Homo sapiens: one gene and its partners. The protein of the gene in region 4 purifies or fractionates together with the protein of the main gene of each other region. This does not show direct contact. Each region holds a gene or a part of one and is shown on either strand. Other genes may lie near its edges.

Region 1 (7,612 bases), on a different chromosome or scaffold from region 4:
AGTCAGTCTTCACATTTCCTGGAATGTCTCAATTTTACAGTTGGCTTGTTTGGATCAGAATCCAAACAAGATTCACATATTCTGCAGTCATTTTAGATAAGAAGGAATTAATTTTTCAATAAGGGATATTAGGCTAAGAAAATCTTCATAAATTGCTCATATGAACTAAAGTGAAAAAAAGAAAAAGAAGGAGAAACAGCAGCAGCAGCTAGTCATCCTACCTGATTTATACAACGAAAATTCAACACCAGAAAAAAAAAATCTAGGGAAATCCAATTACTGTAATCTTAATATAATCTTAATTACCATAATCTATTTTATTGTAAAGTCAGATAAATGTACAATATAATCACCACTTAAATGCAATTTGCTCTATCACATTAAATTTATAGCGAACAGCTCTCTATAACATTCCAGAGATAAACGAAATATCAACATCCTACCCTAAAATTCACATAATATTTTACTTAAATAAAATTATTTCATCAACACAAATTTTTCACTGCTTTCTCGAATGGCTGCTCTGCCTAGAATCCCATTCTGGCACTTGCAGCTTTTGTTTCCTTTCATGCTTTTGCAAATTATGGCTCATGGCTATTTAAATGTACACTATTCATTAGGTAGCATTCTAAATGCCCTTTTTATTTTCCAACCACAGGATGAAGCATACACACAAGGGCCTTCCTTCACTACTTTACATTCTGCCCTGACATCTGGGTAATGCTGCCACGTTCCACTTCTAATTGTGCTGAAGCTTTTACTGAAGAGGTGGAGGTCTAAATTAGGGCAGACTCTAACAAAGCAGATTCGACTGAGAGCAAAGAACCTGTTGTGCGCAGTGCCATGTTCTGACAGCTGAGAGCTCACATTTGGATGGCTGCTTTGTATCCACTGGTCAACAGATTGATATGGATACAATCACAATGCAAAACCAGGGAGCAAAGAGCATAAGAAAGACTTTGGAAAACAAACTCTAAAAACAAACACATAGGTGTTTTATAATTTCTTTACAAATTGCACTTTAGGCAATGTAGGGTAAACAATTAGTCACATTTTCTTTCTAGCTCTTACTTGCTTAACTTCAATAATTATAGGACCAATCATTGCTTTGCAGGTAGAATTAAAGGGACTCAAGGGGAGAAACTATTACATAGGCTGCTTGCATGAACAGAAAGCTGTATCTAAATTACCTTCCCATGGCCACCTGATCGTTGGGATCCAAGGAGCTGGTCTTCCGTTCTATGAGTTCTCGAAGGAGCTAGGGGAAAAAGGAAAGCAACGAATTTATTTATCATCTTCCAGTACAACTGACTTTAAAAGGGCAGAGAAGGAATTCTGAATGGCATAGTGACAGCTCTAAAACTACAATCAATAAGGGACAACCCAGTGGCAAGAGCATTACTGAATTCCCGTTAACGCTTTCATAGTTATATATCTTTAAAAAGGTGGCTATAGCAGTAGCTGAGAACAGAAGTCCATTTGGAAGACTTATTGTACCGCAGTTCATTTCAAATAGATCAATGAGTATGCAACATTCCCTTCATTATTTTTATGATTAGTTTTGTCCACTCCATTGATATCAATGGAGAATCTTTAAAAGGTCAGGTGGGAAGGGCCGTGTGGCAAAAAGGGAAATGCATCAGCTTCTCACCAACAGGATAATGGTGCAAGGTTAACTTCTGAACTATAACCTCCAACAGTCAGGAAGGTCTTCCTCAGGCAAAAAGCCTTTACTGTATGTAATTAAAAGTGTGGGCATCGGCCTCTTGTTTTCCACAGCTGCTACTCTACCATGCTTGCTATTAAGTGCTTTAGCCACACATGATACCAACACATTCATAGCCACACAAATTTTAAGAGGGAATCTAAAGAAAGTCATTTGCATACTGCAAATATACCACAGAGGATTAGTCTCTCATCCAATACAATTAACTCCATGGGAGTTATTCTAAATGACTCTCCTACTGTCATTTTAAGCCTGACTCCTCTGCACCCAGTTGAAATCTACATCTGTACCTTTCATACAGACTTAAGAATCTGCACTGAATCTTAAAGTCCTTGGGCGAAGAGAAGCAATGGTTTTAAAAGTTAAACACTAAGGGAGAAAAACCCTGAATTACGATAATAGAACTATAAGTGCTATATGCAGAGAAAGAGAAACAGAGATTAAAATTCCAAAAATCTTCTGAGAGAAATTTAAGAGAAGACGCTAAGATAAACTAGTTCTGCTAATCATCTGTCAATAATCCAGGTTTGGCCTTAAAACTTGTTTCTTCATAAAAATTAGCAATGATTTTGTAGGTGAGGCATGGTGGCAATAGAGATATTTCATCAAATCAAATAGCTGAAGCCTGTGGGCTTCAGTGGTTCAAATGAAGAAAGAGAAATAAATTCCTCTGAAAGCAGATCTCTTTCTAATTTCATATGTTTATGTAAGTAGGCACTGGAAGAAGTAAAACAAATTTATAAAAAATATTCACTTCCAAAAGATGAATCTTTATTGCAAAAGGGAAAAGGATATCTCAATTGCAATTAGAAAACCTCCCATGATGTTTTTTCATTTGCTTATTTTGGACATTATTACTACAGCAATTATGTTTAAGAATGCAGGGACCAGAAGCCGCTGGTTTTATTATCACTAGAAAACAGCAAGCTATTTCTCTACCCTGTTTATCTGATTGATTCCCAACATCTTTCTGGCAGCCAATCTATCAGTTTATCTCTCCTACTTCATCACAGTCACTTCTGGCAGCTAAATACAAGATCCAAATCCAGTGTTACACAGACATATGACACAGTAAACCTATGTAACACTGCTGCTGTGTAAACAGCTGCCCTTAAGGCTAAGCAGAAATGGGCTTCTGGTTCCTAGTCAATATTCTGTCAAAAGCAAGGAGTAGGGGGAGTGAGGGGGAGTGGTTAATAATAATAAAGAAGAAGAAATAAAAGAGAAAGAAAAATAAAAAGGAAGGAAAATAATGGAATAACTGCATTTCATTGCCCTTACCTCGTTCCAGCCATACAAAAGATTACAACAACCGTTCCTGGTTTTCCTAATTTTCTCAGATCCCTTGAGACTGGGCAATCAGGGTCACCGGGGTGCAAGTGCTCATGGAAGGCTGCCCCAGCACAACAGGGTGATCCTCGGGAAGAATATGCCCTTGCCAAAGGCTGGAAATTGGAGCTCCCCACTGCAGTGGTCTCTGCAATTCCAACACCAAGTTGGTGCAGCATTTACTTTCAAACACTTTGTGTACTATACATATTCTGAGCTGCATTTTCGCACACAAGTGCTTTGCATAACTATTTTTACTCATTCATGACTTGGAAGATTGTTTTATTGGTCTATCTAGCTAGGTCTAGTTTATTCAGTCCAATATTTCAGAAGATTCTGTTGTGTCCATGGTAAGAAAAAGAAAGCAACAACAACAAAAAATACAGTTAAACAAATGATTCCCGTGGCTATTACTATTTTCCCAAAGCTACCACTATCACTGGGTTTAAATTTAATTAGAAAATTGCTTTCAAAACAGTTGCTAAAAAAAAAAAAAGAGATTTGAGATATTGGCTGAAGAATTCAATTTTACTTCTGATTTTAATTTGTATAGCTTTAACTTTACAAATAAACCTTTCTACTAAAATTCAAGTTTCTGTTACAATTATTAGAGCTTTTTATTTCAACAATGATGATATAGTATTTGTAGTAATTTTCTATGTGATTTGGAAAATGGAGAGAGAGAAAATGTTTTTGCTCTAGTCTGTTAAAATTCCTCCAGATAATCAATTCGGAAAGGCTTGATTATACCTCTAGTTCTAAGGGAAAATCATAGATACAGTTAGGTTTTCAGGTTGGCCACAGAAACCTATTTAACCCATACCAATATACATGAGGAACAGGACTAATAGTACTATTAAGCATCTAATCAACATTTATAATACTTTCATTAGAAAAAATGCATGCTAGAAACAGTTAAAAATGGCAGATTGAACACATTAGTTTATCTCTTCTCAACCCCTCTAAGAGACAGTTGAGGAATAAAATAAATATTAACTCCTAAGAAAAAAGAGAAAAGGAGCACTAATGTGTGCATATTTTCATAAATTTTTCCAAGACAGTAAGGAGATGGAGAAGTTATCACCCAAATGCCCAGAGTGAATAAAGGTGAAGATGAAGCTAATTGTATTAGGCCGCAGAATTCCTGTGAGGATCAGCTCTCTGGCAGTTACCACGCAAGGTGGGAAAAAGAGAAGGAGCAGAACCACTTGGGCCTCCTCCATTATCCCACACAGCCAAGTGACTAACCACCTCTACCACCCACCTCCTCTCGTGAGAGAAAAGAAATTTTATTCTTTGGAAATATTGAACCACAGAAGCTCCAGAATAGAGGATACCAGGCAAAGAAGGCTGGAATGAGGTACAAGGGAAAGGCTCTATGTTAATCTCTGAAACCTCTCCCTTTCTCCCACCTCATTTGTAGAAAGCTAACATCCCATTCTATAATTTCCTAGGCAGGAAAGCAGAGGAGCCTTTTCTGGAAGAAACTGAATGGTGTCTGCCCTCCCACCCCCAAAATTAGATTTCAAAGTTGCTATGGTCTTCTGCATGTGTCTCCCAAAATCCGTATGTTGAACACTTAATCCCCAATGCAACAGTATTGGAAGGAATGGCCTTTGGGAGGTGACTGAGTCATGCAGGCTCTGCCCTCGTGGATGGGATTAGGCGTCCCTCTAAAAGGGCATGATGGAGGGAGTCTGTCCCTTTTGCCTTTCCACCTTCTGCCATGTGAATTCCCTCAGAAGAATTCAGCATCAAGGCACCATCTTGGAAGCAGACAGCAGCCCTCTCCAGACAACAGAAACTGCCACCTTCTTGTTCTTGGACTTTACAACCTCCAGAACTGTGAGAAATAAATTTCTGTTCTTTTAAGATTACCTAGTCTGTGGTATTTTACTATAGCAGCACAAACAAATAGATATATAGAAAACAAAGCAAACAAATACAAATTCTGACATCCAAGGCTACTCTAACAAAGAGGTCAGTTCACAGCATAATTATATTTAAAGAAGCCAAAAAGCTCTGCCCAGGTTTCAGAGATTCCGAATAATAAACTTTAATGCTTTACTCTTAAATATGAACAGACAGTTAAGGATCGCCTGCATCTGAGGAAATCCTCATGCACAAACCAAACAAATAGAAAAGAGACTCAAGGAAGCAATGCAGAGAACAAAATAAATAATTAAAAAGGAGAAAAAAACCCCCAAAACTTACAATGAATATCCCAAGAGTGGGAGAGGGTATACTTTGATAAGAGCAGGATGCTGTGAAAAAGACTAAAATGAGAAATTAAACACTAAACAGAAAATTTTAAAAAATCCAACAGAAGAACTTAAATGAATGAAAATCTCTGATATAAAACAAAAAGAAAGCCAAAAGGCAAAAAGATAATATCCCCTTGCTTATTTGCAAGACAAGACAAAAATTTAGAGGATAATCCAGAAAGTCAAACATCTAACTAACAAAGGCTGGGAGAAAATGTTTGAAGGAATACTGAAAATTTTCCCAAATCAAAGAAAGAACAGGAATACAACTGCAAAGACCTAGTGCAATGAATAAAAAAGGGCCTCTGTCAAGACACATCATCATGAAATGTAGAACACCAGAGGTAAAGAGAAGATCCTAAGCAGTTAAAGAAAAAACAGGTTACATATAAAGAGGTGATCATATGTCCCAGTTTACCAAGAAAGTCCTGGTTTACACCTGTTGTCCTAATATGCTGTCAGACTAGCACTTTACCTGTCCCAGTTTTGATAATAAATTATACAGTCGCCCTACATATTAAAGAATGGAAATCTGAATGGGAAAAGACGTCTCAATAGCAAGAGCAGATAGCAGAGGACAGCAAGGTACCTTCAAAATTCTATGGAAAATGACTTCCAGACTCAAATTCCATATACAGCCTTATTATTATTATTATTATTATTATTATTATTATTACTAAGACAGTCTTGCTCTGTCACCCAGGCTGGAGTGCAGTGGTGCAATCTCAGCGCATTGCAGCCTCTGCCTCCTCAGCCAAATTATTAACCAAGTATAATGAGAGTTACATAAATGCATTTTTCATACACGTAAGGACTCAACAATTTACTTTCTGTGTACTCTTTCACAGAAAGATGTACTTCAGTAAATGAGTATACTAAAATCAAGACATAAGATATTAGAAACGAGAGGTCTAACTCAGGGAAGAAGCAAAGGCAAGTCCCAGGAATACAGCCAGCAGGCCTGGTGTGCAGCCACGCCAGAAGAGTCCAGAGAGCTCTAGGATGAGGTCTCCAAGGGGAAAAAGTAGAAGGGAGGTGCAAAAGGATAGGTTATTTTATATATTCAAGGCATGTGGAGTATATAGGGAAAAACAGCAATAGTTACACAGAAAACTAGGCAAATCTTTTAAAAACAGGCATTATTAGCTCTAGGAAAAAACAAATTTGTAAGAAAAATGTAATCATAATATAGCGCTTGTTCCTATAGTTGGGATGTTTGTCCCCTCCAAACCTCATGCTGAAATTTGCTCTCAATGTTGGAGGGGCCTAATGGAAAGTGTCTGGGCCATGGAGGTAGATCCCTCATGCATAGATGAAGTCCTCCCTTGGTTGTGGGGAGTGAGTTCCCGCTCTATTAGAGCCCAGGAGCTGGCTGTTGAAAAGAGCCTGGCATGCCTCAGTCCTCTAGCCTCCTCTCTTGCCACGTGATCTCTGCACATGCCAGCTCCCCTCCGCCTTCCTTCATGAACAGAAGCAGCCTGAGGCTTCCACTAGAAGCCCAAAATTCCCAGCAGCAGAAGAGTGAACCAAAGAAACCTTTCTTCCTCAAAAATTACCCATTCTCAGGTATTCCTTCATAGCAATGCAGAACAGACTAAGACACTTGAGAACAACATTTACTTAGTAATAATAATGTAAACACTGACTGACAGCCATACTAGCAGGTATGATACATTCTCATTGCAGCTTTGATTTGCATTTCCCTAATGGCTAATGATGCAGAGCATCTTCCTGTGCTTACTGGCCATTTGTATATCTTCACTGGAGAAATGTCTATTCAGACCCTTTGCCCATTTTAAAATGAGGTTATTTGTCTTTTTGTTATTGAGCTGTAAGAGTTCTTTATATATTCTGGATACCAGTCCCTTATTCATTTTCCTTCTGTAATGTCTTTTTGCTTTCTTGAGAGTGTCATTTGAGGCAGGAAAGTTTTTAATTTTGATACAGTCCAATTTTTTCTTTTGTCATTTGTGTTTTTGATTTGTATCTAAGAAACCATTGCCTAACCCAAGGTCATGAAGCTCTACTCCTATGTTTTCTTCTAAAAGGTTTATAATTAATAGTGTAGCTCTTATATTTAGGTCTATGATCCATTTTGAGTTAATTTTTATATATAGTGTAAGGTAGGGGTCCAACTTCATTCTTTTACATGTGGATATCCCATTATACCATTTGTTGAAAAGACTACTTACCCCACTGAGCTGTCTTGGCACCCTTGTTGAAAAACCAAGTAACTTTAAAAGCATTTTGGCTTTATGACCACATATTCCTTGGCTTTCTGAATTTGTGACCC
Region 2 (7,612 bases), on a different chromosome or scaffold from region 4:
TTCCTGGAATCCAAGGGGATAAGATTTCAGCTCTGCTCACGGGTGATCTAGAGTCACAGTACTAATGCTCCCAGCTCAGTTTGTCATCTCAGTGTATCTGCTCTATGCAGACCAACTTTCTCACTGCAGACCAGCTTTCTGTTTTCTGTTGTCCCCCTAGCAGAAACAACACTTGCGTTTTCCTTGTTTCAGGCCCAGCCATGTGGAAATCAGACTTTTTCCCAAAATTCTGGTGGAAAAATGCCCACACCTGGCCAGAGGAGGGTGGGGTTGGTCATAGCATAATACAAAGTTGGAAGTTCTACCTACAACTTTGTGTTTGGAGAAGTTTGGATGGGGTGGGTAGTGCTGTTCCTTGGCAGATAACCACCATGGCATCACCTAAGAAATAGTCTCCTTTTTTGGCTTCAGTGTCTTTACTCAGACCACCTTCCGGAGCTCTTCTCTTTCTCTGGATCTCGTCTCCTTACTCTAAACCTAGCTGGCTTGTGCGATTCTGTCCTTGAGCCTCTTCTAATTTCCAAATGTGCTCATCTCCGATCTGACTCTGAAAGCCTGTCTCCAGCTCTGGTTGCTTTATGCTGTGACTAACCTCCCTCCTTTTCTTTGCTCATGCTGTCTCCTCTGCTTGGAATGCCACTTCCACCTCCCCGGTATCACCTATTGAAATCCTGTTTCTCAGGGCCTGCCTCCTCCGTGAAACTTTTCCTGAGCCCCCCAGTCATACCTGGTGGTTCCTCTACCTTCCTCTGCACTTGTCCTTCTCCTATAATGTTTGCCAATGGATGCTTTTGCTTTAGGGTAAAGTCACTTACATACTGTGACTTACGTTCATTTTTTTTTCTTTCCCTTTTTTTTTTTTTTTTTTTTTTTTTACTTTCAGGTGATAAGCTTATTTAGTTAGGAGCCCTCTTCTATTTATCTTTGTATTTTCATACTTTTAACTGATTTAGCATGTTTATCATAGGTACTCAGTATACATTGAGTTGGATGTGTTGTTAACAGGCTCTAAAATTATTTTAATTTAAATTAGTACCAGAGGCTAAACTTGCCCCTGTCCTGTGGTCTTAAAGTGAAGGGATTCTGCCTAAAGGAAACCAGACAATCATAAGAGCCTTACTGATGAAATGTGAAAAGTGCAGAAAACCCAAAGATGAAAATAAAAAACATCTCACTGTCTAGGCATTGTCAGCATCTAGGTGTATCTTACAGGGATGTAGTTTTGAACCATAATTGGTATTCTGTTGTATATACTCTCATATTTAGAGAGGTAGGCATTTTTAATACAGATTGAGAATAAGGCCTGTTGTCTATCCCAGAATTTTAAGTTTTTAGGGCTTCTGGTTTTCACTATTTTTCATTTGGCAAATATGAGATGGGTGTGGAATTAGGCAGTTCAAAGTCTTCTGGGCAGATTTGCCTTTTGAATTTAAACCACCTGGCTTCACTTCTAAAAATCTACTTTTGTACCTCTTATAGCTCTTCTGCCCCACCCCTGTCTTAGTCTGGCAGAGCATTGTGTTCAAGCTAATGCCTGTTTGTAAGTCACGGGCTTAAGGCCTGAGCCAGAAGGGACAGTGGAGACAAACTCACCCACTGCCTTGGTTCATAGATGAGGAAGTGGAGGCCCACAGGAGGAAAGGCCTTTGTTCTAGCTATTAAGTTAGAGAACTATGGTAAAATTTTGATCAGCTGTAATCCTCCATTCTAGAACATTCTAATTCTCTCTTTTGGTAAAGGAAAGGTAAGTAGCAACTGGATATGCAGGGTTTTTAAGACCAAAAAAATTCAGGAATTCCTTAGAGATGTCCAGATTCCATTCTGATCCCTGTGTCCTGTATCATTATTGTCTTATGTAAGACCTGCCCTTGAAGACATAATCCCACATTCTCGGGGAGGAAGTCCTCTAGGAAGGATGAATAAAGTAACGTGCCATCACCTTGTCTTTCCTAGGATCTCTGGGGAACAGCACAGTGTAGTTGAAGCATTGGCTTATGACTGAGATAATGAGGCCACTCAGGTTTGGTTTCAAGCTCTGGCTTTGGCCAAATGTGAGGGTTAGCTACCCTATTACCCATCTTTTAAAGCAAAGTATTTGCTCAAGGTCACAGGGCAAAATAGCAGAGTTCACACATAGACTTATCACTTACTCCAAGCCCTTAAGCACTCTAATGCCTCTCATGCCTCTCCACTGCCCTCCACCTGAAGTGGGCCTCACACTTTCAAGTTCCCTACTAGCTCTGAAAGTCTAAGTGGGTGATCACTGAGCCTTTCCCCTGGTTCCAGCTCTTTAGCTGCTCTGGTTAACTGGCTCTCATGGGATTGGGGGTGTGTGATTGCAGTCACCGGAAGAAAAGAATGCGACAGCTGCAGAAGAAAATAAAGAATGGAACACTGAACATAAAGCAGGACGACCCCTTTGAACTCTTCATAGCAGCCACAAACATTCGCTACTGCTACTACAACGAGACCCACAAGATCCTGGGCAATACCTTCGGCATGTGTGTGCTGCAGGTGGGTGGCTTCCTCTAACCTGTGATTGAAGTCAGAGTCTTGAGGGTTGCTTGGGCTGCCTGGCTTTCCACTGGGAACAGATGTACAGTAAGGAGAGGAGAGTCCCATGTTCCCTATGCCCAAGCATTATTAGTGGAAGTCCTGGCCACTTTCCAAAGTACACTCGGTCACCTACCCCATATAAAAAGAGAATTTTAAATCAGCACTTGTCTAGAGACACCAGAACTGAAGTGATGAGTTATTATAACGGGTTCTAACTAGCTAAAGCTGATAAAGCAAATGCCAGAGACTTTGAGTGCCTCTAGGACCCTAGGTCCTTATTGGCATTCACCAAAGACTTTTTTTGTCCAGTGAGCAATGGGACTTGTTTTCCAACCGGATATAGACCAATGCACTTAAATGTCCTGTCCAGAGTGCCTGAGTGGCATACCCACCATGAAGGCCCCTCTCCCCTTTTCTAGCCCTTAAAAACCCCTCACTTTACCTCTCAGAGACTACTTGGTGAATTTCTGCACTGGTGTGTATTCTCTTGCCTGGCAAGTTAATAGACTAAGTTTCACTTTGTGTGTGTGTGTGTGCATGTGTGTGTAAGCACTGGTGGTCTTTGTTTTATTCTTTGTTTCTTTGATTCCTGTGCCACCTCCCTTCCCCATTCTCCCAAAAAAGACAAGACAAAATTAAGCACAAATCCTCACATTTTTGTGTGTTTATCATATACACTTACAACTGTGCCCATTATTATGTCAAGTTACATACCTTGCAAAATATGGGTTGTCTCCTATACTGCTGGCTTGCATCTCACCTTGGAGGCCAAGAAAGAGGGCATTATGCCTCATTTTCACCTTTACTCAGGGAAATGCCCTGGGTTATCACTGATTGGTAGGGAGTGGTCTTCTACTTGCTGCCATGATCAATTGCCTGAATAATGACTCCTGTGAGCAGTAGCTCCCCCATGTAGTATAGTTTTGTCAAACAGGTTTGAGCTATAAATGTCAGAAAATGTAAGATGTTTCTGAAATTCAAGTATGAATCAGTGAAGGTTGGAAAATTTGTTTCCAAATAGGATTTTATCAGAGACATTTTTGACATATAAAACTAACAACGTCTCTAATAAGAGACCCGTTTTTGGCATATAAAACCAGGTATTCGTATATTCGAGGGTTTGGCCCTCTTCTGTGGTACCCCTGTGTGTGTATCCTGGGAAGTCAAGGTGGGAACAGGTATGGTCTTGGCTTTGTGCTCTGAAGTCTTCTTTTTGCCTTATCACCTGGCTTTTGGTTAAGAGTCCCTTGGGTTGGGCCAGGCGCGGTGGCTCATGCCTGTAATCCCAGCACTTTGGGAGGCTCAGGTGGGTGGTGAGCCAAGATTGCGCCACTGCACTCCAGCCTGGGCGACAGAGCAAGACTCCATCTCAAAAAAAAAAAAAAAAAAAAAAAAGTCCTTTGGGTTGCTATTTGCATGACCAGCCCTTTCTAACGCCCCCTTCTTCCAGGATTTTGAAGCCTTAACTCCAAACTTGCTGGCCAGGACTGTAGAAACAGTGGAAGGTGGTGGGCTAGTGGTCATCCTCCTACGGACCATGAACTCACTCAAGCAATTGTACACAGTGACTATGGTAAGCATCTGTTTTTTAACTTAATTGTGAGGGTTCAAGTAAATCTGTTTTTGCTGTGTTCTGCTTTCTTTAAAGAATTCCTGTTGGGCAGCTCCAGTGAGTAGTCAGCACAGCCTCTGGGCTAAGAGCTCTTTGATTTTAACTAATGAAAAAGTCACTACAGTTAAATCTCAGGGTCCATGAGTATGCCTAGGAATCTCTGAATTTCACCTTTGTTTTCAGGCACTTGCAAATTCTACACCAGTGAGATTCAGATATGATACAGCTTTTATGTAGTTAAATTTTCTGGAATGATATTGTACAAGGAGCAATGCCAGTGCCTAAATTTGTGTATTGCAAAAAAAGGACCATGTGCAGACTGCTCACTGGCCCTTATCCTAATGGATGACGAAGGAACATTTGCCAGTTGTACTCCAGTTTGGCAAGAATTTCAACTCCAGCAGAGATTGTGTTCTCCCAAAGCAAAAGACACTGACTGAGGACATGGTGAGGAATTAGGGATATGTCTCACCTGATGCAGAGCTGGTCTCCTCACTTTATCAGCGTTGCCAAGTCAGTGTTCAGAGGCAAGTTTTAAGTCATGCCCATGTCCAGCAGCTCAGTAATGGTGGTCGGATTGGACTTAGGGTTTCCTGAGCTGCATTTATCTGATGAAATGGACTTTCCTCAAATCTTAGGGGCTGTTTCCTGTCATTACTTCTCCCTTCATCACTTGCACTACAGCCCTTTTGGCCTCCTCAAATGTCCTCAGACATGCCCAGCACACACTCCTGCGAGGGCCTCGGCACTTGCTGTTCCCACTGGAATGTGCTTCCTCTGGACCTCTGCCTGGCTCGCTTCCTCATTGCATTCAAGCCCCTGCTCAGATATCACCTCATCCATGTGGTCTTTCCTCACACCCTGTTTACAGTAGGCAGCTCCGCCTGTCACTCCTTAACCGGCTTTATTTTTCTTCAAAGCACTTGACAATGACCTAAAGTTATTATTATTATTTGTCTGTCCTCCTGTACTAGTCTCTAAATTTCACTGGAGGGCCGATCACAGTGGCTCACGCCTGTAATCCTAGCACTTTGGGAGCCTGAGGTGGGCGGATCACCTGAGGTCAGGAGTTTGAGACCAGCCTGGCCAACATGGTGAAACCTCGTCTCTACCAAAAATACAAAAAAAATTAACCAGGTGTGGTGGTGCACACCTGTAATTCCAGCTACTAGGGAGGCTGAGGCAGGAGAATTGCTTGAACTCAGGAGGCGGAGGTTGCGGTGAGCTGAGGTCACGCCACTGCACTCCAGCCTGGGCAACAGAGCAAGACTCCGTCTCAAAATAAATAAATAAGTAAATAAATTTGATGGGAACAGAGAGTTAGTTTTCTTTGCTGTTGCATTTCCAGATCTTAGAAGAGTTCCTGGCATTTAGTAAGCATTCCTTAGATAGTTGAGAGTGAATGAATGACTTTGTGCTCACATCAGTTTGTTCTTCCTCTCCCTCTGACATAGCTACCTACTTACCCTTCAGGCCTCAGCTTATCTCAGAGAGGCCCTCCCTCACTACCCTACATAAGTGACCCCCACTTGCTATCCGTGCAGTCTATATTTCATATGTAGCATTTGTCAAAATTTGTATTTATCTACTAATTTTTCTTCCTCCATCCATTATACTCCAAGTGCCATGAGAACAGAGGTCATGCTTTGTTCATTAGTGTATGCACAGCATATCTGGCACACAGCATGCCAATTTTATGAAATAAATGAATATAACTTAGGATGCTAGGAAAAATGTGGAAAAGTGAAAGATTTTAATAAGCAACGTTGCATTCAGTGTCTGATCCCAGTTTCAGCAAATACCATTTGGCACAGCAGTGTGTGTGGGAGTGATTTTGTTTCCAGCAAGATTGCCCATGTCTCCTTGGATAGAGCTTTGTATTTGGACCCTGGTCCTCAGCACTGTTTGCATGCCTTTGTTAATGGATGTTGTCTTTCTTTGTTAGGATGTGCATTCCAGGTACAGAACTGAGGCCCATCAGGATGTGGTGGGAAGATTTAATGAAAGGTAATTCTATAGTTCCCCCCAATTGTGGGGCAGCCACATTGGGAGGGACATTTTTATCTTGGACTCAACTGAAAACTTTGCTTTTATATTGGGGAAAGTAGTACAATATTCCAAAAATGATGAGATTCTTGACAGCAGCAGCAGTTGTGAGACTAACTGGAAGCAGTGAAACGTGGTGGAAAGTTGGAGCCAGGAAACCTCAATTTTGTCTTGCTGCTGGCCTTGACAGCTCAGTTAAACCAGGTTACTCTCTCTGGTTCTTAGCTTACTCATCTTTTAAATGAGTGATTTTTCTGGATCACTGCTTCCCAGAAGATATTTCATAGAGCAGTAGTCTTTCCAAACTTTTTATTATGAATATGACGTACTGGCATAGTAAAAATGATTAAGAGAAATATGGGAGGTGGGGTGAGATGTAATTAGAGGCAGAAAAAGGCGACAAAGTGTTTCTTCTGAGCAAAGGAACACCCATAATTTCAAATATGGTGTACGGTTTGTTATCTGAAATTAAATTTGTATGTATTTATTTTTATTTTATTTATTTATTTTTTTGAGATGGAGTCTTGCTGTGTTGCCCAGGCTGGAGTGTAGTGGTGCGATTTTGGCTCACTGCAACCTTTGCCTCCCAGGTCGAGTGATTCTCCTGTATCAGCCTCCCGAGTAGCTGGGATTACAGGTGCCCGCCACCACACTCGGCTAATTTTTTGTATTATTATTATTATTTTTTTGAGACAGAGTCTCGCTCTGTTGCCCAGGCTGGAGTACAGAGACACGATCTTGGCTCACTGCAACCTCTGCCTCCCGCATTCAAGCAATTCTTGTGCCTCAGCTTCCCAAGTAGCCGGGATTACAGGAGCCCACCACCATGCCTGGCTAATTTTTGTATTTTTAGTAGAGACAAGGTTTCACCATGTTGGCCAGGCTGGTCCTGAACTCCTGACCTCAAGTGATCTGCCCCACTCAGTCTCCCAAAGTGCTAGGATTGCATGTATGAGCCACCGTGCCTGGCCATTTTTTGTATTTTTAGTAGAGGTGGGGTTTTCACTGTGTTGGCCAGGCTGGTGTCGAACTCCTGACCTCAAGTGATCTGCTCACTTTGGCCTCCCAAAGTGCTGGGATTACAGGCGTGAGCCACCGTGCCCGATCATAGAACACTAGTCTTTTAAGAGGGAACATATGAGGAGGGTTTGGCCATATATGTCTGGGAAACACCTATACCGTTTTTTCCTTTATGAAGATTTGCCCCAGCCTGTTGTAATCTCTGAAAAGTCTTGCAGCAGCAGGGACCTGTTTAACTGATTGTTTCCCAAATTTATTTTACCAAAAAAATTTATTTTTTTGAGGGGTGTGGGAACACCAGTTAGCACCCTGTGAAACACCTTAGGAAATTTTGACCTAAATCAGTGGTTCTCATCTGGAGCCATTTGGCCCCCTGGG
Region 3 (7,612 bases), on a different chromosome or scaffold from region 4:
GTGACAGAGCAAGACTCCATCTCAAAAAAAAAAAAAAAGGAAACATTTTAGTACTACCCCAGAAACTGGAGACCTCAGTCTATATTTGAAGGACAACGAAGTTTCACACAAATCACTTTATTGTAATTTCCTTCAACTCTGTTCACAAACTCACTTACTAAACATAAAAATTCAAAGCACAAATGAATACATTTACAATTATCAGAAAATGTTTATTTTCTATCCTAGATGTCTTCCTAGTATTGAGACCCTACAAGACATGTCCACTTGGATGTCCCCCAGGCCTCTCAATTTCATGTTTCAAATTACCTATTTCAAGAAATAGCATCTATTCATCTACCCATTCACTCAAGTCAGAAAGCTCAAATATTCTGGACTCATTACTCACCACCCACATCTTCCCTAACACCTTACAACCATCCCCCTCATGTCCTTTCCCATTGCCCTGCTTCTGACCAATTTTTAGTCCTAAACTGCTACATTAAACTCCTTCAATTTAATGGCTCCAACCTGGTGCCCTGTCAACTCTCAACAGAGAGAATTATCATCACGATTCTTACGATTACCACTTTTCTTTTAAAGCCTTCAATAAAGATTTTTAAATTCTCAGCACAGCAATACCAGTTGCCTACTTACCTCTTCTAACCTCATAACCTGATACTAACATAATTTCTCAGTCTAGAATAATTATCTTTACTCCTTCACCTCCTTTACCTAATCACTCCTACCGACTTTCAAAGATTCACCTTCTCCAGCATGGAAAAGGTATCCTGCTTTGAACTTTCACTGTATGCTCTGCATACCTTTATATCGTATCACAAATTTTTTACTAAATGCAAGCCAGTTATGGGTTGGGGACACAAAGGTGAACAAAACACAGGCCTAGACTTTAAGCACAGTGGAGGCAGAACATAAAGTCAACTGCAATATAGTCTGATAACTTTTTTTAAGCTAACATCTCAGTGTTTATTATATGCCAGGCATCATGCTAAGGATTTGTCATGTACTATCTCATTTACTTCTCCAATAACCTTATGATTCCCACATTACAGAGAAGGAAAAATAGAAGTTCTGTTATTTGCCAAAGGTTCAGTTAAGCTTTAGAACTGAGATATGAATCCAAGTCTGACTCTAGATCCGAAAACTCTTAATCACCATGCCTCTATTTCAACTGCCACAGCATTTAATTCAGTTTCCCCAGTGGCCAGCACACAGCAAGTACAAAACGTGTATTTGTTAAGTGAATGAACTTGATTGTTGAAGTTCTAAACTAATGACTTAACAGCAATATTACCAATACTTAACATCAATGTTATGATACTATAACATCAATACATTATTGATATAATGACAATGTCAATACTACAACTTTTAAGTGGTAGTCTCCTGCTTCAAAGAGTTCAAAAACTAACAGTTAGTGTATTTGTTAGATACACTAACAAATGTGAAGAGATCAATATCCCAAGTGACTCACCATGTCAAAGTTGGTAATAGCAAAACACTGGAAATTAATGTCTATCAGAGGCAGACATGTTAAACAAATCAAAATATATCCCATATCATGATCTATCCATATGCTATGGTCTTAATGTGTTCTCCCAAAATTTGTATGTTGATACTTAATCACTAGTAATGGTATTAATAGGATTAATGACCTTATAAAAGAGGTGCAAGGGAGGTGCTTGACCCTTTTGCTCCTTCTACTATGTTAGGGCACAGCATTTGTTCCCTCCAAAGGAAGTAGCATTTAAGGTGCCATCTTGGAAGCAGAGACGCCAAACCTGCTGGCACTGTGATCTTAGACTTCCTAGCTTCCAGAATGGTAAGAAATAGATTTCTGTTCCTTATAAATTACCCAGTCTCAGGTATTTTGTTGGAGCAGCACAAACAGACTGAGATATCATGTAACGGTTATGCAGCTGTATAAAAGAATAAGAATGCTCTTTATGTACTGATACGGAATAACCCAAATTACACTCATTGGAAAAAAACATGTGGGAAATAATGTGTCTTAATGCTACCAAGGGTGGGGGCAGGAAGGATAAATGTTTTTAACTTCCATATGCAAAAAACACCTTTGGAAGAACATACAAGAAACTGTTAACACAGGATGCCGAGGACTAGGAAACTGGGTGACTTGGGGGTAGAAGTAAGAAGGAGATTTCACTGTATCTCTCTGTTTAACCTTTTGAATTTTGAACCAAGTGATTATATTACCTATTAAAAAAAACAACAACAAAAAAAACCAGGCTGGGTGCGGTGGCTTGCACCTGTAATCCCAGCACTTTAGGAAGCCAAGGCAGGCAGATCACGAGGTCAGGAGAGACCAGCCTGACCAACATGGTGAAACCCCGTCTCTACTAAAAATACAAAAATTAGCTAGGCGTGGTGGCATGTGCCTGTAATCCCAGCTACTTAGGAGGCTGAGGAAGGAGAATCACTTGAACCCAGGAGGCAGAGGTTGCAGTGAGCCACGATCATGCCACTAGCCTGGGTGACAGAGCAAGACTCCGTCTCAAAAAAACAAAACAACAACAAAAAACCTCCCAATAAAATTTTTAAAAAGCAACCAGGTGCGGTGGCTCACACCTGTAATCCCATCACTTTGGGAGGCCAAGGCAGGTGGATCACCTGAGGTCGAGAGTTCGAGACCAGCCTGACCAATGTGGAGAAACCCTGTCTCTACTAAAAATACAAAAATTGGCAGGGCACAGTGGCTCACGCCTGTAATCCCAGCACTTTGGGAGGCCAAGACGGGCGGATCATGAGGTCAGCAGATTGAGACCATCCTGGCTAACACAGTGAAACCCCGTCTCTACTAAAAATACAAAAATTAGCCGGGCGCGGTGGCGGGCGCCTGTAGTCCCAGCTATTCAGGAGGCTGAGGCAGGAGAATGGTGTGAACCCGGGAGGCAGACCTTCTTACAGCGAGCCGAGATCGCGCCACTGCACTCCAGCCTGGGCGACACAGAGAGACTCCATCTAAAAAAAAAAAAAAAAAAAAAAAAAAAAATTCAGCCGGGCATGGTGGCACATGCCTGTAATCCCAGCTACTCGGGAGGCTGAGGCAGGAGAATCACTTGAACCGGGGAGGCGGAGGCTGCGGTGGCTGAGACTGTGCCATTGCACTCCAGCCTGGGCAACAAGAGCGAAACTCCGTTTCAAAAAAAAAAAAAAAGTTTTAAAAAAGCAATTTCAGAAATGAAAACAGAAACATCATAACATCCATGACCACAGCTTTCTTGATTGCTATGGTGTCAAAGTGTCTGATACTTCCTGGAGTCAAATACTTGTTAAATCAATGAACAAAGTTTACAAAAGTTTCAAATTACCACTGCAGGAATATTTCAAATATATTTTATAAAGCACAGCAAAACTGGTGGAAAATAGTTTTGATTTTCCTGAAAACAGTCAATCAGAGCCAAAGATTTTCAGGGCCCCATCCCAGGCCTATCATTTATCAAAGTGTGAAACACTATGAGAATCTGTATTCTTTGAAAAACACCATGACGTTCATTTTATTTGAAATCTTATATAATAAAGAAGTTATAGGGATGGGGAGACTTTAGAAAGTTACCCAGAAAAAACACTTTAAATGAGTCAACTAACAAAAACAAAAAAACTAATTCATGGCTATTAGAAATCTTATCAGTGGTTACCTGGGGCAGTAGAAGGAGAACTCCAACAGGGCACAAGAAACTCTGGGATGGTGGAAGTATTCTCTATCTTGATTAGAATAAAGGCTACAAGATGTGTGTATGCACATCAGCAATTCATTGAACTAAATACTTAAAATCCACGTATTTTTTTCTATGAAAGCATACAATAATGAAGTTACTTGATAAGTCGGAAAGCATTTGGAAATGTAGACTCCTGGGTCCCTCTCCCAGAGATTGCTAATCAATGGGTCTTGTAGTGGGAACCAGTTAATCTGCATTTTTAACTCCAAGCCATGGTTGACCCTTCAACCATACTTTAGAAAATAATGACCTAGCATAATGTTCTATGTCCAGTAATTACTGATCATGCTTTGCAAAAATATATCAATTAATGATAAACTTTTAATACAAAAAAATCTAGGTAATTTTGATTCCCAAGTTTAGGAAATACTAAGAATATTAAGTGGTAGGAGTTCCAGGAAGAAGTAAAAAGTAAGACAGTTAAGGAAGCTTGTTCCTTCTTCCCCGTCTCCCACAATCCTTCAATGGCTCTCCATCACCTAGTGCAGTGGTTCTCAACCAAGGATGATTCTGCTCCCCCACGTGACATTTGGCAATGTCTGTAGACATTTTTTTCATTTCACAACCAGAGAGAGCATGTGCTGCTGGCATCTTAGCACGATGACAGCAGGGATGCTGGTAAATACTGTACAATGCTCAAGACAGCCCTCCCCTCCCTCAAATAATTACAAAACCTCAAATGAGAAACTCTGACCTGGAGCCTCACCTCCAATAAAGCTACCAGAAGTAGTCAGTTGTGTCCCAGAGTTAAACAAAACAACAGAATTAAGATGTTACAACTTCAGGAAAGTCCATTTTTACTTCCAGATCAGTGGGGAAGGAGGAAGAATATCATCTTTATATTTCACATAAAGCAAACAAACATTGAATAAAATGCAAATGACACATGAATACTTAAGACTTAGAAAACTTCAAAATAACGTAAGCAGGAGCAGCTTCAGGCTATCCCCCCAATCACAGGGGATACTTAATTCTCAGCTTTCAAAGTATAGTATTTTTAAAGTTAACACTGGCCTAAAACATAATACTGTACATAAACTTTAGCATGACAGTCTGTTGCTGCAGCATAGTTTAACCTAGTGCTATGCAAAGTGTGGTCTGTGGACCAATGAGCCAGTCTGTGAATTATCAGTTTATGTCAGAGAAACACAAATTGAGAGCACAAAAATGGAAAATTTAATAGCAGAATAATTTTATGTCTATTGAAACTAATAATAAAAAATTGGGGCTTATAGTTTATCTTTCTTATTCCATTTCCACTTTTTTTATTTGCAGTATAGTCATGCAGTATGTCCAACGTTTGGTCAACAATGGACATTTATGACAGTAGTCCCATAAGATTACTATGGAGCTAAAAAAATTCATATCACCTGTGATGTCATAGCAGTCACAAGTTCATAGTACAGCACATCATCTTTTCTATGCTTAGAAGCACAAACACTTGGCCGGGCGTGATGGCTCACATCTATAATCCCAGCACTTTGGGAGGCCGAGGCAGGAGGATCACTTGAGGTCAGGAGTTCCAGACCAGCCTGGCCAACATGGTGAAACCCCGTCTCTACTAAAAATACAAAAATTAGCTGGGCGTGGTGGCGAGTGCCTGTAACCCCAGCTACTTGGGAGGCTGAGGCAGGCAAGCACCTGTAATCCCAGCTACTCGCGAGGCTGAGACAGGAGAACTGCTTGAACCCAGGAGGCAGACAGAGGTTGCGGTGAGCCAAGATTGCACCATTGCACTCCAGCATGGGCAGCAAGAGCGAAATTACGTCTCAAAAAAAAAAAAAAAAAACAAAAAAAGAAACACGCTTACCATTTGTCATAATTGTTTACAGTAGTCAGTACAATAACAAGCTATACAAGCTCATAGCCTAGAAGCAATAGGATATAGCCCAGGTGTATAGTAGGCTCTACCATCTAGGTTTGTGTAGGTAAAATACTCTATGATTTCTCAATGTACCGTATTGTTAACAACGCCTAACTGTAGTTTTTAAAATTACAATCTAACCTACTCTGACTGGTGTATCTATTGAGTAGCAAAGCCAAGATTTGCATCCATATCTAACATCAAAGCCCATGTTCTAAATCATTATTAAGATTTTGAACTCAAACCCCAATGTGTAATCCCTACATCTGGATAGCTGGACTGCACCAAGTGTAAGTCACAAGGATTTAGTGTGTGTCTGGTCTACGGCCTTCAACACTTAATGCCAGCCAAGCTGCCTCTTTGGCCCCTCTTCCCCAAGCCCATGCTCAAAGCTTAGTCTCCAGATCTCTGATGATGCAAAAGGACACAGGAAGACAAAAACAAAGAAAAGATTCATCCTCAAGGCCTAAAGCAGAGTCACCGAATGCTACCCTTTTCTTTTGGAAGCCACCCTGGTTTCTGGCTATGGGGGATAACATCCTCTCAAATAGGAGTAGGCCTCAGATCTCTCTAACCATGCGAGCTACATGGAGTACAGGATAAATGAATCCAAAGTAAGAAAAAGCCACACGGACTTAACAGTCTTTAATTTTAAAGTCTTCCTTCCTCACACCAAGACCTCCAACCCCTAACATAAGGTTCGAAGACCTTAGATTTGACTCATCCATACTGTACATTTTGACCACAATCCTTAAAAAAAATTACTTCCCCACCTAGTACACAATACCTGAAAGAAAATTTAATCTCCCTCAAAATATTAAGTGCAATGTCCACTAATGGGTCACAACCTGCAGTCTTCAAAACACTGCTGTAGAGTTCAATGGTCTACATTTAACAGTATGCTCTCATATAGCGAACTAAACCCATAATCAAACTACCTTACAATTCTGCTCCTTAAAAACATAATTTTTCTTCAGTTTCTATTGTATAATAAAGTTTATCTTTACAGTCCAAACTTAGTACAAAAAAAGAAGTATACAAAAAGTTTTGTCTCAAAACTTAGTAAAAGACATAAATCATTAGTTTAAAATGTTCAACTTATAATCAAAAATTGAAGATAGCTTATTAATTCAAAATGTGAAACACATTTCTCAGCAGGCAATTTAGTCAGGTAGGAATTCTCTATCGGCAATTCCCAGAATACAGTCTACAATGAATATGTATATCATCAAATTATACAAAGTCTGAAACTAATCTGCTCTACCACTATCCTTATTCTGACTGGTCCCTCATCTGATCACTCTCCATTACTGAGACCTTAGAAGCCATAGATGTAACTCTTCTTCCTCCCTCTTCTCCCCCAAGCTTTGTTGTTGTTGTTGTCCTAGCATATTCCTCTAAATTCTCCTAGGTTCTGTAAGGATTCCTAACTTGCCTCAGACTTGTTCAGAAGTTCTGGCATGGATTTACTTAAAATGACTTCTACGGGACAATGTGCAAATCTGAACAACCAATTTTATCACAAACTTCTGAAATACAATCTTTTAACACTACCTTTCATGTATTATGTATGCATCAAATATCTCCAAACCAAAGCCTGCAACAAAAATTGTTAAGCTACATTAGAAAAAGACAATATCCTTTCTTTTTAAAGGATAAGAACTAATTAAAATCAACTTAACATTTCTGTTATTTGTTGTGAATTTGAATTCTGTAAGCCTAAGATGTGGTAAAATATGTATTTTTAATAACTGTGTTATGAAGACCTGGTTCCATCATGTTGTCCCATCATAGAATAAGACAATGCTACCATGCAAATCACCTATGTAGCTTCCACATTTATTTCATAGCTTCACTCAACTCTTATCTCCTTTAGTCCCACCCACTGAACAGCTGAATGAGATGAAAGATTGTTTACTGCTCTCCCGCCACGACCGTACCACCCCCCCATCACCACCCAACCACCCCTTACTCATTCCCTTGCAGTCTGAAGAAATAAAGAATCCAA
Region 4 (7,612 bases):
AAATTAAACTCCTCATGTTACTATACTGTATAACCCAATGTAAAAAGGTAGAACGTTTAAATAGTCTAAACTAGAATTTCTTCTGAAAAATCAAACCAAACCACAATAAATGTTAGTGATTAAGAGTACTTATTTTCCTGAAGAGGTTAATATTTTGGAGAGTCAAGCCACAGAACCAATGAATGATACGGTATAATCTCATACTGACCCTCCGTGGTTTACTGAAGCATAACATCAAAAAAGTCCTGAGGTTCAGGGTAACTGTTACAGAAAACACACATTTCTTAAGACATAAATTCACTGAAATACACGTCATGAAAGTACTTTGTAGTTTATAACGTTTGTAAGTATCTCTAAGCAAGAAAGTGGTATTATTAGTTCCAATTTCCATATGAATAAACTGAGGTACAGAAAGATTGCTCAATGATCTTATATGTATAGCACACAGAAAAACCCTTTACACTTGCATGTGCATGCGTGCATGTACATAAGGATTCACAGATAACAATACCTCATTAGGGGCCTTCAAAATATTACAGTTTAAGACCTTTGAAACTCATACATTAAAATATCAATTTTCCCCTATTCAATTAAAAGTAAAAAATATATACCCAATGTTGACGATAATTCCGTGAAACTGACACTCTTACTGATTGTTGAAGGTATTATAAGCTGGTACAACACTTCCAGAAAGCAATTTGGCAATAACTTCAAGACACAAAAAGTATTCATGCCCTTTCTTAGTAACTCTATTTCTGGGAAACTATCCTATGAAAATAATTCAAAATATGGAAAAAGCTATAGGTTATTTATAACATCCCAGATACTTGGCATCTGGGATTTAACATTTGAGGTTTTGACACTGGTAGTTTTAACAGCTTGTGAGAGAACCACAGGTTGATCTACAGCACATGTAGAGTTGCTGTGTGAGCAAGGAAGTCACGTAACTAACTAGTGAGTTAAGCCTGAATGCTAGGCATCAGCTTCTCATTGTGGCCTGGTTGTTCTCTACTAGTCCTGACATGCTTGGAAACATTTCTAGGCTGGGAGAGATGAAAAACACACCTCTGTTTTAAAAGTTTTTAAAATTAAAAGGCCCTAAAAAGGCAAGCCAATTACTTGGCTGCTCATGAAAATGAAGAAATTTAAGAAAAGCTTGTTATTTGTGGGTTTGAGATCTGTCCTATTTTTTTTTCAATGTTATAAGTCCACTGTAGTGAAAGATTAGAAATCTGATTGCATATTCAACAACAGAGAAATGGTAAATTAAACTGTAATCTTCTTAACCAGTGGTTGAATTAGGATAGTGGAATTACAGATGATAATCTTTCATTTTACATTTTCACTTCATAAGGTCAACATTACCCTAATACCAAAAACCAATACGAGGAATGAAAACTACAGATCATATTCCTCTTTGCCACAAGTACAAATATTTTTAATAAAATATTACTAAATTAAGCTGGGAATATATAAAAAGATAAGGTACCATGACCAAGGTGGGGTTTATCTGAGGAAATATAAGCAATGCTTATAACTTCCAGTTACAGATAACAGGTGTAAATACCACTTTTAGGTATTTGCCCTACATTACTATGTTTTGTTTGTTTGTTTGTTTGAGACAGGGTCTCATTCTGTTGCCTAGGCTGGAGTGCAGTGGCATGATCACAGCTAACTGCAGCCTCAACCTCCTTGAGCTCAGGTGATCCTACCACCTCAGCCTCCCCAGTAGCTGGGACTACAGGCGTGTGCCACCATGCCCAGCTAATTTTTGTATTTTTTTGTAGAGATGGAACAGTTTTGCCATGCTACTCGGGCTGGTCTCGAACATCTGAGGCTCAAGTAATCCACCCACCTTGGCCTCTGAAAGTGTTGGGATTACAGGTGTGAGCCCCTGTGCCCGGTTTCATAATTATGTTAATAAAGACACAATCTAGATGTGGTCCACTTAGTGTGGGAACCTGTATCATATATCTGTACCTTACAACTGGCATTATATATTTCTGAAATATTTGCTATAAAACACCTCAATCCAGTTTATTTTAGATCTGCTTTCTCAGACAACTGAACACTTCAATTTAAAAATGTTCATATTAAAATATATTCAATAAGCTCATTCTAAGATTAGAATTAAACTACAATATATTCAACTTAAAAGACAGAATTCAACATTTCTTAGAATCATAAAGTCAAGGGACTCAAGTAAAATATTTCTTAACAGACATCTCTGAGTAGCATAATTATGTAGCCTTATGGTGGAGATTTACTGACACAGAGAGCTCAACCCCTTAAAGCAGCCTTCAGTTCTTCTGCGAGACAATTCTAATAATATAGAGAATTCCTCTTTATATTATTACGTTAAAATCTACCTTCCTTCAACTTTTATCCACTGGCAGTACTGCTAACCTGTGAGGTAATAAAAGAGATTAAGTCTTCATTTACATATTCTGCAAGTATTTAAAAATAGCTGTTAAAATCACTTTTTAGACTTTTCCTCTCCAGGCCAAATCAATTGAGTTCTCCCAACCACTTGTCATATGATACACCAGTAAACTTCATTCGTTCTTACCACCACTTCCTGCAAAAGCCAAACATTTAAAACAAATGGGTTGCAACACAGCACTTCATTCCTGTAGGAATATGCAGCAGACCATCCTAGCAAATTTACTACAATAGCCAGTGTCCATCCTAGCAAATTTACTACAATAGCCAGTCAATCCTCAAATATCAAAATACCCTATTTTTTTCCCAAATAAAAACCCACGCAAACATATGTTTTATTCCCAATACAAAAGCACGCTACTTATAAAAATGGAATTGGTAACAGAACACCTTTAAGTTTTAAGCAATGGTATTCCTACAACTGGTTAGTACTCTTTCTCCTAGTGACTAATATAGGCTAAAGAACTGAACCCTTATCCAAAAATATATCTGGTTTTAAAAGTTATACACATATATAATATAAACAGCAGTAATCTATAAAAACAGTATTGACTGCAGAAGTCCCTGATGATTTGCCCAACAATGTTGAAAAAAATGTGTACAGTAGTCCCCCATTATCTGAGGAGGATACATTCCAGGACCCACAGTGAATGTCTGAAATCATGGATAGTACTGAATCCTATAGCTAGTATGTTTTTTCCTATACATCTACAGCTATGATAAAGTTTAACTTATAAATTAGGCACAGTAAGAGATTAACAACACCAACAATAAAACAGAATAATTACACTGTAATAAAAGTTATATGAATATAATCTCTCTTCCTCTTTCTCTTTCAAAGTATCTTATTGTACTATACTGGGTAACAAACTGCAGAAAGTGAAACCATGAAAAAGGGGCAACTGCTGTTTACTACAGAATGATCCCATTTATCCCAGCTTTTATCTTTGTTTAGCTTTGACATGATTTTAATTAGTTTTGTACTAGTACTATTTTACTCTACTATGCTATATTTCTTTGACTATTCGCAGCAAGATTGAAAATCGAAGACTATGTAATACATATTTTGTGTTAGTGAAACCTCATGAATTAAGGACTAGTGGGGGTTATGGAAGAAAAGGTCACTTAAGAATTAAACATTCAAAAGAAGTGTAATAACTTTAGAACACGTGGTGCCTGGATTCAAGTTTCTATATCTTGAGAATACAGGCTCAAACCTAGGAAAAGCTACTCTGATAAATGGACAGGAAAAATTTATAGTTAGTAAATCAAAGAAACCAATTAAAAATAAGTTGGTAAGAGTCTAAAATGCTAGTCATTAAGTTAGTTAAATGGTGTATGCAAATATGATGTTAAGGTCCTCACCAAAACATTTCCGGCTCCTTCATATTTAAAAGGTACTCAACATGCTGAAATTCGAAAAAGAGAAAACATTTAGTATCTAATTCTTACCTGGAACCCATTTAATTTCCATTTCCATATCATTTTCTTTGCCTTTCTTTTCTTTTTCTTGAATAACCTGCAAGAGCTGCCTGTATTTAGCAATTTGTTCTTCATCATCCTTCTGACTTTTCTTTGTTTTCCCATCTTCTTCTACATTGACTCCATCATCACCTAATGAAAAAAAAATTCACTTAATACACAGAAACAATTCATTTCTAACTCGTGTTCAGATCTTATGGTCACTCTCTTTTAAAAGATGCTGTTAGACCACAGGATATCAAAATCAGACTTAAATTTCTGAATATTAAATGAAAGACTTAGGGTCTCATGTAGAATAAAAATCAGTTGCAATATAAATTTGCACTGTCATAGCAGTATGCTTGGGAATGCCCCTTTTTATTAAAATTTATATTGGATAATAATTCTGCAGTTACATAACATCTTTGGGCTTCTTTTTCCTATAAGCTGCAAGATAATGAAGATGGCATTTTCACCCTCTCTGGGAAGTGAGGAGCGTCTCTGCCTGGCCGCCCATCGTCTGGGATGTGAGGAGCCCCTCTGCCTGGCTGCCCAGTCTGGAAAGTGAGGAGCGTCTCTGCCCGGCCGTCATCCTATCTAGGAAGTGAGGAGCGCCTCTTCCCGGCCGCCATCCCATCTAGGAAGTGAGGAGCATCTCTGCCCGGCCGCCCATCGTCTGAGATGTGGGGAGCGCCTCTGCCCTGCCGCCCCGTCTGGGGTGTGAGGAGCGCCTCTGCCCGGCCGCGACCCCGTCTGGGAGGTGAGGAGCGTCTCTGCCCGGCCGCCCCATCTGAGAAGTGAGGAGACCCTCCACCCGGCAGCCACCCCGTCTGAGAAGTGAGGAGCCCCTCCGCCCGGCAGCCGCCCCATCTGGGAAGTGAGGAGCCCCTCCGCCCGGCAGCCACCCCGTCTGGGAAGTGAGGAGCGTCTCCGCCCGGCAGCCGCCCTGTCCGGGAGGGAGGCGGGGGGTCAGCCCCTGCCAGGCCAGCCGCCCCGTCTGGGAGGGAGGCGGGGGGTCAGCCCCCACCGGCCAGCCGCCCCGTCCGGGAGGGAGGTGGGGGGGTCAGCCCCCGCCCGGCCAGCCACCCCGTCTGGGAGGTGAGGGGTGCCTCTGCCCGGCCGCCCCTACTGGGAAGTGAGGAGCCCCTCTTCCCCGGCCACCACCCCGTCTGGGAGGTGTACCCAACAGCTCATTGAGAATGGGCCATGATGACAATGGCGGTTTTGTGGAATAGAAAAGGGGGAAAGGTGGGGAAAAGACTGAGAAATCGGATGGTTGCTGTGTCTGTGTAGAAAGAAGTAGACATGGGAGACTTTTCATTTTGTTCTGTACTAAGAAAAATTCTTCTGCCTTGGGATCCTGTTGATCTATGACCTTACCCCCAACCCTGTGCTCTCTGAAACATGTGCTGTGTCCACTCAGGGTTAAATGGATTAAAGGCGGTGTAAGATGTGCTTTGTTAAACAGATGCTTGAAGGCAACATGCTCATTAAGAGTCATCACCACTCCCTAATCTCAAGTACCCAGGGACACAAACACTGCGGAAGGCCGCAGGGTCCTCTGCCTAGGAAAACCAGAGATCTTTGTTCACTTGTTTATCTGCTGACCTTCCCTCCACTATTGTCCTATGACCCTGCCAAATCCCCCTCTGCGAGAAACACCCAAGAATGATCAATTAAAAAAAAATAAATAAAATAAAAATACAAAAAATTAAAAAAAAAAAAAAAGAAGATGGCATTTTATCCCTCTTTATGTCCTCCACTATCCAGCACAGTGGCTTTAAAATGTTATGCTGAATAAATGTAGGCTGAATATTGTTGGGATGAATTCGGTTTGCAGCTATTCAGCCTGAAGAGAAGAGATAAAGGCAGTTGTTTATAATCCAAACCTAAGAATACTGGAACCTTTCCATTTTTGAGCAAGCATGCTTACTCCAACGATCTCATTAATATATTAAGAATAAAAATGAATTAGGAGTTACTTCAATTAATTTCACTGTGTGGAAAAACATTCACATCTGCATTTCCTAGTTCTGCAAAAATAATTAAAATACAAAGAAACATTATAAAATTCACAGGCAACAAATACCCAAGAAAACTAATACACCAAAAAGTTTGTTCTACATTTCCACTGCAAGTCTCCAAATCAAAAACAAATCAGAAACCTGGGTTTTAATGCAAAACATACAGACTTATTGAATTGACTGTCTCAAGTAAAGGAAACTCTACTAGCAGGATAATGAAGTCCCTCTCCTCTATAACCTATGGCTAACTGCTCACCAAAAATGTCTGACATTATTAAGCATTTAGCTGGGAAACATCAGTGTTAACAGATTGTCCTTGTATCTTTTTTAGTTTTTAAAATTCATTTTGTCCTTGTATCTTTTTTAATTTTTAAAATTCATTTATTTTTTCTTTTTTCAGCAAGTCCTTATATCATCAATGTCCTTATATCTTAAAAAAGTGATATGGAAAAAAACTGGTTAAGTAAATATTTCTATATGTATATATTGTTTTCTTAAAATAAATAAAAAATGGTCCAGGACATTCTTTCCATCCTATCACACTTTTATTTTCATTCAAACAGCTGAAATTCATTTTTTTCCTGTTTGTGCTTTGTGCCACAATAATAATGTTGGATGGAATTCTGTCATGTATCCCGTAATTCAATGGATAAAACATCAGGAACACATTAACAAATGGCAAAGTATTTCTTTCTATTAAAAGCTTACTTCTGAAAACATAATTAGAAGCAAGCTCCTTCCAGGTTGAAATTTTAGTGGTAAGTCTCTGATGGCTTACTTTAAACTGATTTTTTCCAGTACTGAAATTTTACAATCTGAAGCTCTAAAATGTGGGATAAGTCATGTAGCTCTGTTTTTTCCCAATTCAAGGACACTAGTTTGTGAAACCCTTAATACTATATAAGGAGTGAAAGAATAATAATTCTAACAGTAAGCCACCCTGCTATGCTCTCTTATAAACAATAACCAGAAATATTCAGTAGCTTTAAGGCATTTGAATATGCTGATGTATCTATGAGAGGTACTAAATTAGATTATAGTAAATTTGTAATCAATTAAAATGTGGAAGAAAAATATACGCTTTAAAAAAACTTGGTGTATCTCAAACAAAAAGTCATTATTTATTAAAGTTTTTTTTTTTTTTTTTTTTTTTTGAGACAGAGTCTCACTCTGTTGCCCAGGCTGGAGTGCAGTGGCACGATCTCGGCTCACTGCAAGCTCTGCCTCCCGGGTTCATGCCATTCTCCTGCCTCAGCCTCCAGAGTAGCTGGGACTACAGGCGCCCGCCACTACGCCCGGCTAATTTTTTTGTGTTTTTAGTAGAGACGGGGTTTCACCGTGTTAGCCAGGATGGTCTTGATCTCCCGACCTCATGATCTGCCTGCCTCAGCCTCCCAAAGTGCTGGGATTACAGGCGTGAGCTGCCGTGCCCGGCCTATTTATTAAAGTTTTAAGAAATAAAAATACAAGATACAAGGTACATCATTTCAGTATTTCCAACCATAAGCCTGGTATTATTAGATCCTCATTTCACAGCTATGGAAGAAAGATATAGGGGGTTTAGTAAACCTAATCTATGTATGGTGAAGTTAGGATTTGAAACTAGCAGAGCCCAAGCTCTTAACAAGAATGTATTAACAAATTAATGCTTATTTATTCACAATATTAGCTACCCTAATGCCAAA

Evidence for each region.
Region 1: the proteins of ESF1 (region 4) and AATF fractionate together in Homo sapiens (co-fractionation; one large-scale study listed by BioGRID). This does not show direct contact.
Region 2: the proteins of ESF1 (region 4) and NAT10 purify together in Homo sapiens (co-immunoprecipitation; one large-scale study listed by IntAct). This does not show direct contact.
Region 3: the proteins of ESF1 (region 4) and SEPTIN7 fractionate together in Homo sapiens (co-fractionation; one large-scale study listed by BioGRID). This does not show direct contact.

Annotation. Positions count from the first base shown.
Region 1 is NC_000017.11:37,012,651-37,020,262, reverse strand, and holds part of AATF (protein AATF), read right to left. Parts: intron 1,259-7,612; coding exon 1,191-1,258; intron 1-1,190. UniProt on the Homo sapiens protein: Part of the small subunit (SSU) processome, first precursor of the small eukaryotic ribosomal subunit.
Region 2 is NC_000011.10:34,109,710-34,117,321, forward strand, and holds part of NAT10 (RNA cytidine acetyltransferase), read left to right. Parts: intron 1-2,342; coding exon 2,343-2,514; intron 2,515-4,006; coding exon 4,007-4,129; intron 4,130-6,113; coding exon 6,114-6,175; intron 6,176-7,612. UniProt on the Homo sapiens protein: RNA cytidine acetyltransferase that catalyzes the formation of N(4)-acetylcytidine (ac4C) modification on mRNAs, 18S rRNA and tRNAs.
Region 3 is NC_000007.14:35,802,753-35,810,364, reverse strand, and holds part of SEPTIN7 (septin-7), read right to left. Parts: intron 1-7,612.
Region 4 is NC_000020.11:13,755,798-13,763,409, forward strand, and holds part of ESF1 (ESF1 homolog), read right to left. Parts: intron 4,057-7,612; coding exon 3,895-4,056; intron 1-3,894. UniProt on the Homo sapiens protein: May constitute a novel regulatory system for basal transcription. Negatively regulates ABT1.